Linked DNA regions of Homo sapiens: region 2 is linked to region 1. The links come from fine-mapping of genetic effects on gene expression. Tissue or cell type: blood mononuclear cells. Region 1 holds a variant in brackets; the other region holds the start of a gene. All regions are shown on one strand. Distances are between the middles of the regions.

Evidence for each region. PIP is the estimated chance that this variant, and not a neighbour inherited with it, causes the effect.
Region 2: B3GNT7 starts here. The variant in region 1 is fine-mapped to the expression of B3GNT7 in blood mononuclear cells (TOPMed, PIP 0.97). The same link has a PIP of 0.9 or more in whole blood.

The regions. Positions count from the first base shown.
Region 1 is chr2:231,421,858-231,427,822 of GRCh38, forward strand. No RefSeq gene overlaps it. Among named protein-coding and RNA genes, the nearest start is that of B3GNT7, 29 kb to the left of the region's middle. The variant G/A (reference allele first, on the strand shown) is at 2,559.
Region 2 is chr2:231,393,112-231,399,076 of GRCh38, forward strand. It overlaps B3GNT7 (UDP-GlcNAc:betaGal beta-1,3-N-acetylglucosaminyltransferase 7), which reads left to right and starts at 2,599. Exons shown (of 2, transcript NM_145236.3): 1 at 2,599-2,703; 2 at 4,620-5,965. The coding sequence starts at 2,693. The coding sequence ends at 5,814. RefSeq lists enhancers at 221-803, 804-1,385, 1,681-1,730, 3,999-5,198, 4,141-4,210 and 1 more and a silencer at 2,281-2,750.

The DNA.
Region 1 (5,965 bases):
CCCTGGGCATCATGTGCTTTGGCCCTGCCAGCACCGAGGATCACTGGTGATGACTTCCCTGCCATCTCCTAACTTCTAGAACTTTCCTGGCCTTTCCTCTCCCAGCCCTTCCAATGCTTCTCTTTCTGCTCAAAATACCTAGAGTGGCTTCTGTTTTCTTGATTGAACCCTGACTGCTACAAACAATACCCTCGCATATCCTGCACATGCCAGGAACACATGCCAGTCTATCTGTAGTATAAGTTACTAGAAGTCAAATTTTCAGGTCAGTTTCAAGGTTGCTGGTGTATTAGTTTGCTAGGGCTGCCATAACAGAGAACCACAGACTGGGTGGCTTAAACAACGGAAAATTTATTTCCTCACAGTCTGAGGCTGAAGTCTGAGATTAAGATGTTGGCAGAGTTAGTTTCACTCTATGGGTGTATGTGTCCAAATTTCCTCTTCTTATAAAGACATCTGTCATATTGGATTAGGGCCCCACCCTAACAATCTCATTTTAACTTAATTCCCTCTTTAAAGACCCTGTCTCCAAATACAGTCACATTCTGAGGTACTGGAGGTTAGGACTTCAGCGTGTGAATTTTGAGGGGATGCAACTCAGTCCATAACAGATAACTAGCTATTCCCAACTCACCCTCCCTGGCAATTGTCCCAAACAGCAGGTACATGAAATGTGTCAGCAAACCTGGTGATCATCACCAATCTAACAGGTAAGAAAATGCACATAGTGTTGTTTTAATTTGCATTTCTCCTACTCTGAGTGACATTAACATCTTTTCATGTGTTTGAATCATTCATATTTCCTTTCCTGAGAAAGATTTGTACAGGACAATTTTCTAGGTGACCTTAAACCAGCCCGGTTCTCCCATCTTTCTTGCTTGTAGTTCTGAAAATTAACTGTAGAATGTGCTAGAAATGCAACATCTTGAGATAAGGGGGAGCTGGCCAGAACTGCTCAGGCTCTGTTCCAGTTCCGCCTTAGAAACAGGGTGGCTCATGCCTGTAATCCCAGCACTTTGGGAGGCCAAGGCAGGCAGATCACCTGAGGTCAGGAGTTCAAGACTAGCCTGGCCAACATGGTGAAACCCCGTCTCTACCAAAAATACAAAAAATTAGCCAGGCATGGTGGCAGGCACCTGTAATCCCAGCTACTCGGGAGGCTGAGGCAGAAGAATTGCTTAAACCCGGGAGGTGGAGGTTGCGGTGAGCCAAGATCGCACCACTGTACTCCAGCCTGGGCAACAAGAGCGAGACTCTGTCTCAAAAAAAAAAAAAAGAAAAGAAACAGGGTGTCCTTCAACACTGTAGCTCAGCCACTCACAGAGCATAAAGCTCAGGGCAGGCTGCTTTTCAGGGTTCTTCAGCCATGGTGCAGGTGGGACGCATGAAGTCAAGATTCCATCAGCCCTGGGCAGCTGGCCTGAGCCTGGGGAACTGGCTCTGAATGAATCCTAGGCCTCTGTTGCCCCTTGCTGCCAATCTGTAATAAATCCTCATCGTGTAACTGGGTACATGTGAGTGTGTTCCGTCTCACCAGATGCCGACAAGTTGGTAAGCCGCGCACGGTGAGCCTGCTTCGCGGTTGGTTCATATCCTTTGCCTATTTTTCTATTGGCTTATTTGTCTTTGTCTTTGTCTTTTTTTCCATTGCGACACCTACTAAAATGGGATTGACTTTTACTTATTTGTTGAAGGGGTTCATTAAAGACATTTATCTGATATGCACTGAAAATATTTTTCCATTTGTCATCTATCTTTTGACTTTGTTCATAATTTTTCTGTGATACAGTGATATTTTAATGTAAATTTTCCATCTTTTCCTTAATGGCTTCTAGGTACTATGTCGTTATTCTTAGAAAGTCCTCTCCTACCCAAAAAGCACTGAAAATTTAAAAATTAAAAACAAGACTGGACGTGGTGGCTCACACCCGTAATCCCAGCAATTTGGGAGGCCGAGGCGGGTGGGTCACGAGGTCAGGAGTTTGAGACCAGCCTGGCCAGCATGATGAAACCCCGTCTCTACTAAAAATACAAAAATCAGCCGGGCCTGGTGGCGCATGCCTGTAATCCCAGCTACTAGGGAGGCTGAGGCAGGAGAATTGCTTGATCCTGGGGGGCGGAGGTTGCAGTGAGCCGAGATCGCGCCATTGCACTCCAGCTCTGGGCAACAGAGCAAGACTCTGTCTTGGAAAAAATAAATAAATAAAAATTAAATTTAAAAAGCTCTTTCCAACTTTAAGTTATAAAATAAATTTTCCATATTTTCTTCTAGTACTGTCATATTTCACTTTTTACATTAACATATTTGATCCACCTGAAATGTATTTTAATATAAGACATGAGGTATTGCTGGGCGTGGTGGCTCATGCCTGTAATCTCAGCACTTTTGGAGGCCAAGGCAGGATGATCACTTGATTCCAGGAGCACAAGATCAGCCTGAGCAACATAGTGACACCCCATTTCTACAAATAATAGTCTAAAAATATTAGCCAGGAGTGGTGGTGTGTGCCTGTGGTCCTAGCTACTCAGGAGACTGACAGGAGTATCACCTGAACCTG[G/A]GAGCAGTGAGCCATGATCACACCACTGCACTCCAGCCTGGGTGACAGAGTGAGACCCTGTCTCAAAAAAAAAAGATATTAATATAATTTTTCCTCTAGGCAGATGGTATTCCAGTTACGCCAACACCAGTGGAAGTGGCAGATTTATTACGTACTGAATTATCGTGTGGACTTGGGTCTAATTCCATGTTTCCTGGGCACATTTGAGACCTCTGCACTTCTCAAACCTCTGACTCTGACATCTCCCCTCTTTTCATCAGATGACCTTGCCTTTTAATTCAAAGAGCACGTGGAAGGACTCGTGGGAAGAGCACCTCCAGTTTAAAAACAAAAGACCCATCCCCTGCTTGCCTCCACCTGAGTCTCAGAGCCCACCCTTCCCAAGCGCTTAGGACCACTGTCTCTCTTCTGTGGTCAACATCCATTGCTCCACTAATCCTTCTCCATAGCCTTTTCTTTTCTTTTCTTTTCTTTTTTTTTTTTTTTTTTGAGACGGGGTCTCATTCTGTTGCCCAGGCTGGAGTGCAGTGGTGCCATCTCGGCTCACTGCAACCTTTGCCTCCCAGGTTCAAGCGATTCTCACACCTCAGCCTCCCAAGTAGCTGAGATTACAGGCACCTGCCAACACGCCCAGCTAATTTTTGTATTTTTAGTAGAGACAGGGTTTCACCATGCTGGCCTCGAACTCCTGACCTTATGTGACCCGCCCACCTCAGCCCCCCAAAGTGCTGGGATTGCAGGCCTGAGCCACCGCGCCTAGCTCCATGGCCTTTTAAATGGGCTCAAGACTTTTACGTGTTGAAAACAAACAAAAACAAGAAACTCCTTCAACCCCATGAACCTCTTCAGCTGTGTCCCTACTCTCATCCCACAGCCACATTCCCTGAGGGAATTGTAGTCTCTGCAGTCCCGTTCCCCAGTTACTCCTCAAGACCCTGCACCCCGCTCATCCAGAGTCAGAAATAGTGGAGAGTTCTTGGTCTTGCTTGGTGTCTGGTCTGTCCTCCCAGCTCTGAACGACCACATCCTCTGCCAACATCAAGCAGGACTTCAGCTGGACAGGATGTGGCTCATGACAGCCACTTTCACATGGTTCCCAGAAGGGGAGCCAAAGGGTAGGAGGTCTCAGAGGTGGCAGCCTTCAGTCTCCTGCGAGAGGGAGAGGAGCCGCTGGTCTTCTCTTCCGCAAGTGACCAGTCAGGAGTCCGAGTCCACCCACAGAGGTTGCAGAAAGCAACAGGGCTTGCTCCAAAAGCCTGAACATCACTGGGGTCTGGGGCTGTAAGGGGGTACCGGGGGGCTCATGAGAGGGCAGTGTAAGTGCCTTCCTGCCCATCTTCAAGCCAGGCCCTGGAGCCAGCCACCTGCCTCAGCAATTTCCCCATTGCCAGTTCCAGGCCAGGTGAGACTCGTAAAATCACTCACAAAGCAGAATGTGTAGTCAGAGCTGGGGAAGCACCAGCCTGAGGGGCAGGAGGCTAAAGTCAGGAGCTGTGTACTAAGCAATTCACACGCTCCCTCTCCCCAGAGAGATCTGGCCTTTGTGCCTTTGTCCTGGCTCCTGGAAGACCACACCTGATGGTTTACCGTTACCCTAATGAGGTGACTCATGATGGGCCCCTGAGGGCGAGAGCTGTCAGAGCAACCCCCGGGGCGAAGAAACAAGCTAGAGACCCAGTTCAACCTCACAGGCAATGATTCCATCACCCTGCCCACAGAGGGAAACTGCAACACAAATTCTGACATCAAAGCCCGGGGAAGCTTCCGTGGTTGGCGGTACTCTGCGAATTGTCATACATCACAGCAAGGAGGAGGTGATGCCACACCCGTTGGCGGTACTCTGCGAATTGTCACACATCACAGCAAGAAGGAGGTGATGCCACACCGGTGGCTGCCAGCTCCTCATCAGGACCCTCCCTGGACTCTACCCTGTGTCTCTTCCTTTGGCTGGTTCTAATTAGTATCCTTTCCCGTTCATAAACATGGGGGCAATAGTGCTGTGCTTAAGGAAGCACCAGCAATTGGAGGTGAACCCAGACAGGAAGAATCCAGCCCCAGCCTTGTCCCGCCGTCTGAGGATGACACCAGGAAGTCCTGACCTCCCAGGACCTGAAGCAGAAGGGCGCTTGGTATGGTGACATGGGCGGGACGGTCTGCCACTGGGTCGACCAGCCCACCTTTGTGATGAACCTAAGTAGATTAATTTCATTTTCTGGGAGGGTGTAGTGGGTGGAGGGCACAGATAGTCAGCCAAAGTATCATCCCAGACCCAAAGAATCAGGGGATCTGTTTGCTTTTTCAATAAAAAGAGATGGGGGTAAGTTTGTGCAGATACGAGGAGCACTTAAAATCACAGGTAGAATAATAGGAGAAGAACAGAATTGTCTGAGTTTAGTGCAAGGAGAGGGAGAGGCCTCAGAGCCACTGGGGCAAACCCCAGCCCTTGCAAACAACGCTTCCTCAACACCCGTAGGCAGCCATGGTTTTTTCGGATGGATCTAGCTTGGGGCAACCACAGCTTAAGGAAGAACTAGGGGTACCGTGTCTTCAGCTGGGGAGCAGAGCCCACAGGCCTGCTGAGCCCTCAGCCTCCAGTTCCCCGGTGGGGCCTTCCAGCTTCACTGCTTCCTCAGAGCCTGTGGGAACATTGCTACCTCCACCCTTCACCATGATTGGTGTGGGCCTTTGCATTATCCTCTGTTAACCTGCAGGTGGTCTTAACCTGGGGTCCACGAATGCCCACAGGGTCCACAGAGAGCATTCAGGGGACTCATATGCATGGATGGGAATAAATAGACATCTTTGTTTTCACCAACCCTTAACTTTTCTTCAAAATTTGTTAAGGTAGTGGCAAAAAACCACAATAGTATTAGCAGTTCTGTGACTTTGTCACTATATCAGTCAGATCGCAACCAGAGAAACACAACCAGCAGGAGGTACAGCCCATGCTCCTGATTCGTGGTGGTTATGTTCTATAAAATCACCACAAACACTGGATTAGTGAATGTTGAAGCTTTGCTCCTGGGAGAAATTAGGTTCCTCCTTAGGTACCTGTGAGGGTCTGGTCACAGTATTTTCTTTCTTTCTTTTTTTTTTTTTGGACCGAGTCTCACTCTATTGCCCAGGCTGGAGTGCAGTGGTGTGTGGTGCATTCTCAGCAAACTGCAACCTCCACTGCCTGGATTCAAGTGATTCTCGTGCCTCAGCCTCCCAAGTAGCTGTGATTACAGGTGTGTGCCACCACGCCTGGCTAATTTTTTTTATTTTTAGTAGAGATGGGGTTTCACCATGTTGACCAGGCTGGTCTCAAACTCCTGGCCTCAAGTGATCCGCTCACCTCGGCCTCCCAAAGTGCTGGAATTACAGGCTTGAGCCACCATGCCCGGCCTAGTCACAATATTTTCCTC
Region 2 (5,965 bases), 29 kb before region 1:
CTTCTCCTGGTATCTGCCACTCTGGAACTTCCCTCTACCTCTGGGCTCTGCCTTCAGCCAGGGTTGGGGACAGCAGGTAGGCAGATCCCATCGCAGACAGGCCTGCCTTCCTCAGGGCCTCGCTTAAATCCACAGGAATCTGCTGGGGCTCTGCCCTCTGGCTGGGGCAGGTGGAACTGGCCAGATTGGCGGTGGGGGGACCACTGTGCTTGCCATAGGGACTGGCCCAGCTGCCCCACAGGGGAGCACATTGGAGTAACAGGGGAGGCTGACCCGAGCCTGGCCCGGCTCCACACTCCCCACCCCCACCCCACCATCAGGGACTCGCATTTAATTGTCATTCATTTCCCCTCTCTGAATTCAAACTAGGCACAGATCAAATGATTCCATGATGACAAACTGCCTGTCTCAACTGACCAGATTCCACTGGCAAACACTCCGCTGACCTTGGGCAGCTCCCTCTGCTCCCACCTCCTCTGGCCCTTGTGCTTCTGGGGCTTTGTGGAGTAGCTGGACATCAATGATAACACTAACAGTAGCCGGCCTGCCACCAAGTTCTTTACATAGGGGATGCCTATGTCTGTGCTTCATTGGCGTCATCTCACAAGGCCCTGAGCTGGCAGGAAATTGAGGTCTCAAGGGGAAAAGCCACCTGCCCCCAGTGACAACCAGGAAGTGCAAGACTCTGACCCAACGCCCATGCCTGCCATCCCCAAACATGGGCTCAAAACCCCCTTCCCAGGGACGGCTGTGTCCACCCCTCAGCAGGAGGAGGAGACCCCACAGCACCGGGTGAGAGGTCAGTGCTGAAGCCAGGGAGGCAGCTCTCAGCAGGGCACCTGTGTGGAGCCAGGGAAGCCAGGGCCACACTTGCAGGGTGAAGTGGGGAACTCGGAAGGCTGGGCAGTGGAGCAAAATGCTTGGTGCCCTGCGGGAACCGGTGGCCAAGGCTACACTGGGATGAAGGGAGCCGTGGAGCTGCAGAATCTGCGGGTGGCCCTCAGTGGCAGGCAGCCAGGCCAACAGGGGCTTTGGGCTGCAGGTCAGCCCCTCCCCTGCTCTGGAACTTTTGGAGGGCCATTACAAAGGACATCAGCCCCAAGATACTCCTCTGAAATTCTGCCTGAAAGGCCCTTCACATTCCCTAATTGGCACTTACAACATTCCAGAACATTCTATGGTACCTTAAGTTTCTCCTCCCCCTCCAAAGGGCCCTTGAACCTTAAGGATAGGGCAGAAGGGGCTCCTCACCCTGGCCTCGAGGGCTTAAGATCCAGCTGAGGACTCCTAGCCTCCCTGTGTGCTGGGCAGGAAAGTAGCTCCATGTCACTGCTGTCCCTGGGAAAGGAAAAAAGGTTGAGGAAGGGCTCAGAGCCAGCCTTCAGACCAGGCAGGAAGGGTTCAGAGCCAGCCTTCAGGCCATGCAGGCCTCCTGGATGTGCTTACTAACTCTGGGCTCGCTGTTCTCTGAGCTGGCTGGGAGTTCCCCTCTGCACCCCCGTTTCCTCCCCTGTAAGGTGGGAATAATAGCGTATGTCTCTAGGATTAAGTGAGCCAGTCATGCATGGGCCGAGAACCAGGTTTGGCATATTGTAGCTGCTCAGTGGACGTTAGCTGTTATGATTGGACCACAACGTGCTTCCGTTTCAATTCTGTGGGCCTTTTGGAGGTCCTGCTGGATGCTAAGCACCGAAACCTCAACCCGGAACAAGACCAGAACAACCTGAGCAACAACAGGACCAGCGATGGCTCTCCCTGCTGGAGGATTCTGGAAGTCACCTGGCTGGACCAAGCCCTCTCCGTGTTCTCTGTCAGCCCACTCCCCAGAGCCGCTAGGCCTGATGTGCACAAGCAGACTAATAAAGGCTTGAGGACAAAAAGGGTTTTGAGTGATAAGTGAAAAAAGAAAGGAGATAGGGCTGGGCCAACAGGCCTTCCCTTGGTGGTGGGGAGCCCTCAGAGGTGGGAGGAACCCCAGAGGTGAAGAGAGGGACATGGTGGGGGCACAAAAAAAGCTTCCAGAGCCACAGGCCTGGGCGAGTCCTGACATGGAGCCCAGTCTCATACGGCCTCTTTCCCTAGTGGCTGGCTTTGCTCCTGGCCCTAGGTAGCCCAACAGCTGGGCAAGGGGTCCGTCTGGTCAGGGGAAAGGTGCAGGGGCAGAAGGTAGCAGAGGGAGAAAAGGACACCCTGTCTGCCTCTGGCCCCAAAGACAAGTCCGAATGGGGCCAGAGGGAAATGGCTGGGCCTTGGGGTGCCCCAGGGTCTTGGAGGGGACCGGGTGTTCAGGTTTCGCACAAGTACAGGAGGGACCGGCGACCGCCCTCCCCCCGCCCCGGGAGGCTCCGCCAGGGACAGGCGTCCCCGGGATTGGAGGTGACCCCCGTGGGTTCCGAAGCCCCGCCTCGGCCATGCACTGTCTACTAGGCGCGCTTGGGGAGCCTAGGGGCCGTCTCGGAGAAATGGGGTGGTCCCCGCCAGGCGGCGGCGGGGCGGGCCCTGGGCGCCGAAGGGGTTAAGGCACCTGGGCCACCGCCCCTGCCGGCCCCTCCTCCCGCGGCCGGGAAGAGGAAAGTCGCGGCGGGGGCGCGGCCCGGTCTCCGTCCCCACCCGCCCGCCGTCCCGCCGGCCCGAGCCGTGGCGCCCAGAGCTGCGAGCCGCTCGCCCCTCCGCCGCTCCGGCCCGGGCCGCCATGTCGCTGTGGTGAGTGGGGCTGGGGGCCGTCGGGGGCCTGGGCGGGGGCGTGGGCCCGGGGCTCCCCCTCCTCCGTGGCCACAGACGGGCGCCGGGACTCCCGGGATAGGAGATGCCCCCGCGCGCGCCGCGCCGGCCTCAGTTTCCCGGGGGCGGATGGGCGGGCGGGCGCGGCGGCGGCGGCGGGAGATGTTCGCGGTACGCGGCCCCGGACCCGTGGGGGACGTCGAGGGGTCTCGGGGCGCCGCGCTCAGCTCCCCGGCCCCGCGGCCCTGGACACCGCTCCAGGACCCTGGCGGCTGGGACCCCAGGTCTTGCCGGCAGCTGGGTCCCCTCTCCCTTCCAGACCCCTGAGGGCCCCCTGCGTCCGGGCCACTCTCCTCCTCTCGGGGCTTCCTTCCGCGGGACCTCGGACCGCCGCCCGCCCGGCCCCTCTCCGCCCCTCCCGGGCTTTCCCTACGAATGGAGCGGACCCGGCAGGTGGAGCGCCCGCAGCCCAGGGCCTCGCCGCCTTCCCGGTGCACCCCCCGACCTCCCCCGTCCCGGCCTCGGTGGGCGGCTTCCCTGGAACCCCTAGGGCTGGCAGGGCCGGATCCGGAGCCCTCCGTTTCCTCCCCGGAGAGCTGGACCTTGGGTCACACCCCCCAGCCTGCACCTAAGGTGCCCCTGTCTTCCTCCAACCACATGCCCCAGCAACCTGGGGACCCTATGGGGAAAATGTCGCTCTATGGGGCTCAGCCTGCATTCACCCTGGGGCCTGGACCTGCAACCGGACCAGCCCTCAGGGCAACCCAGGCGTCTCCACGGGCTGCCTGTCTCTCCTGGCACCCTGCTCCTCCCCCTTGGAGGTCAGCGCCATCTCTCTGCTAGGCTGGCCCTGGAAGGCCACTCTGCTGTCCCCAGAGCTCTCAGCCCCCAGGTCTCCACTGGGGAGGGTGGGGCAGGTGTCCTGGCAGCCCCCGGAGGGTGAGATGAAGAGAGGAGGTCCTTCAGGACAGGGGCTCAGGCCCCAGGGCTTGGGACGACCAGCACTCCTGGCAGAGAGCTCTAATTTCTGCTTCCGAAATGGGTGTGGACCGGGGTTGGGGTGGGGGGGTCTCTGGGCAAGAAGGGTCCCTCAAGGGCTGGAGCTGCAAATGTGCCCCCTCCCAGGGAGTAGAGCTGTAGCCTCATGTCTTCTAATGGGGTGTTATGAGCTGGGGATGTTAAGGTAGGGGTGAGGGGCAGTGCCATGCTAGAGGTGCTCACTGCATCCTTGGGCCTCCATCAACCATGAGGGCTGCTCTTTGTTGGGTGAGACAGACTGGAGAAGGGGGAGGAGGGCCAGTCTTCCTCAGGTCCCAAGCTCGAGCCACTCTCCAATGTGCCCCACATGTGATGGAGCTCCCGGGCGGCACAGAGGATCAGAGGGTGCCCTCTCAATGACTCTGGCTCTGAGTCACCTAATGATACCGATACCTACTGCTGTGGGTAGGTACACCGCAGGGAAATGAAAGGCATTGGGGTTCCAGGCGTGGGGAACAGGGCAGAGGTTTCCACCTGAGGCCCTCCTGTTAAGGTGACAGCATTCCCCTAACTGTGCACCCGCTGCCTGGTACTTTATATAGCACTCCAATCCTGTGTTTTAGCCCCATTTGGGGGAAGAAGAAATCGTGGCTCAGAGTGGTTGTAAACCACTCATTCAGCTTGTAAGCGTCAGGGCCTGATTCCACAGTGCTCCTTGAGGAGAGGGCAGGGTGGGAGAAAGAAAGGGCAGGGTGGGAGAGGAAGCGGGACCCTACCCTGACAGCTTAGGGACTCCGGGACTGAGCCTGTGCCCAGGTCCACTTGCCCGTCTGGGACCACCCAGCCTCCCAAGGGGGGCGCCAGGAGAGCCCTGGGCTCATCTTTTCTCTCTCCTCTGTACTGTCCGCTCTCCCCCACAGGAAGAAAACCGTCTACCGGAGTCTGTGCCTGGCCCTGGCCCTGCTCGTGGCCGTGACGGTGTTCCAACGCAGTCTCACCCCTGGTCAGTTTCTGCAGGAGCCTCCGCCACCCACCCTGGAGCCACAGAAGGCCCAGAAGCCAAATGGACAGCTGGTGAACCCCAACAACTTCTGGAAGAACCCGAAAGATGTGGCTGCGCCCACGCCCATGGCCTCTCAGGGGCCCCAGGCCTGGGACGTGACCACCACTAACTGCTCAGCCAATATCAACTTGACCCACCAGCCCTGGTTCCAGGTCCTGGAGCCGCAGTTCCGGCAGTTTCTCTTCTACCGCCACTGCCGCTACTTCCCCATGCTGCTGAACCACCCGGAGAAGTGCAGGGGCGATGTCTACCTGCTGGTGGTTGTCAAGTCGGTCATCACGCAGCACGACCGCCGCGAGGCCATCCGCCAGACCTGGGGCCGCGAGCGGCAGTCCGCGGGTGGGGGCCGAGGCGCCGTGCGCACCCTCTTCCTGCTGGGCACGGCCTCCAAGCAGGAGGAGCGCACGCACTACCAGCAGCTGCTGGCCTACGAAGACCGCCTCTACGGCGACATCCTGCAGTGGGGCTTTCTCGACACCTTCTTCAACCTGACCCTCAAGGAGATCCACTTCCTCAAGTGGCTGGACATCTACTGCCCCCACGTCCCCTTCATTTTCAAAGGCGACGATGACGTCTTCGTCAACCCCACCAACCTGCTAGAATTTCTGGCTGACCGGCAGCCACAGGAAAACCTGTTCGTGGGCGATGTCCTGCAGCACGCTCGGCCCATTCGCAGGAAAGACAACAAATACTACATCCCGGGGGCCCTGTACGGCAAGGCCAGCTATCCGCCGTATGCAGGCGGCGGTGGCTTCCTCATGGCCGGCAGCCTGGCCCGGCGCCTGCACCATGCCTGCGACACCCTGGAGCTCTACCCGATCGACGACGTCTTTCTGGGCATGTGCCTGGAGGTGCTGGGCGTGCAGCCCACGGCCCACGAGGGCTTCAAGACTTTCGGCATCTCCCGGAACCGCAACAGCCGCATGAACAAGGAGCCGTGCTTTTTCCGCGCCATGCTCGTGGTGCACAAGCTGCTGCCCCCTGAGCTGCTCGCCATGTGGGGGCTGGTGCACAGCAATCTCACCTGCTCCCGCAAGCTCCAGGTGCTCTGACCCCAGCCGGGCTACTAGGACAGGCCAGGGCACTTGCTCCTGAGCCCCCATGGTATTGGGGCTGGAGCCACAGTGCCCAGGCCTAGCCTTTGGTCCCCAAGGGGAGGTGGAGGGTTGAGGCCTACGTGCCACTGGGTGTGGTGGGGTGCAG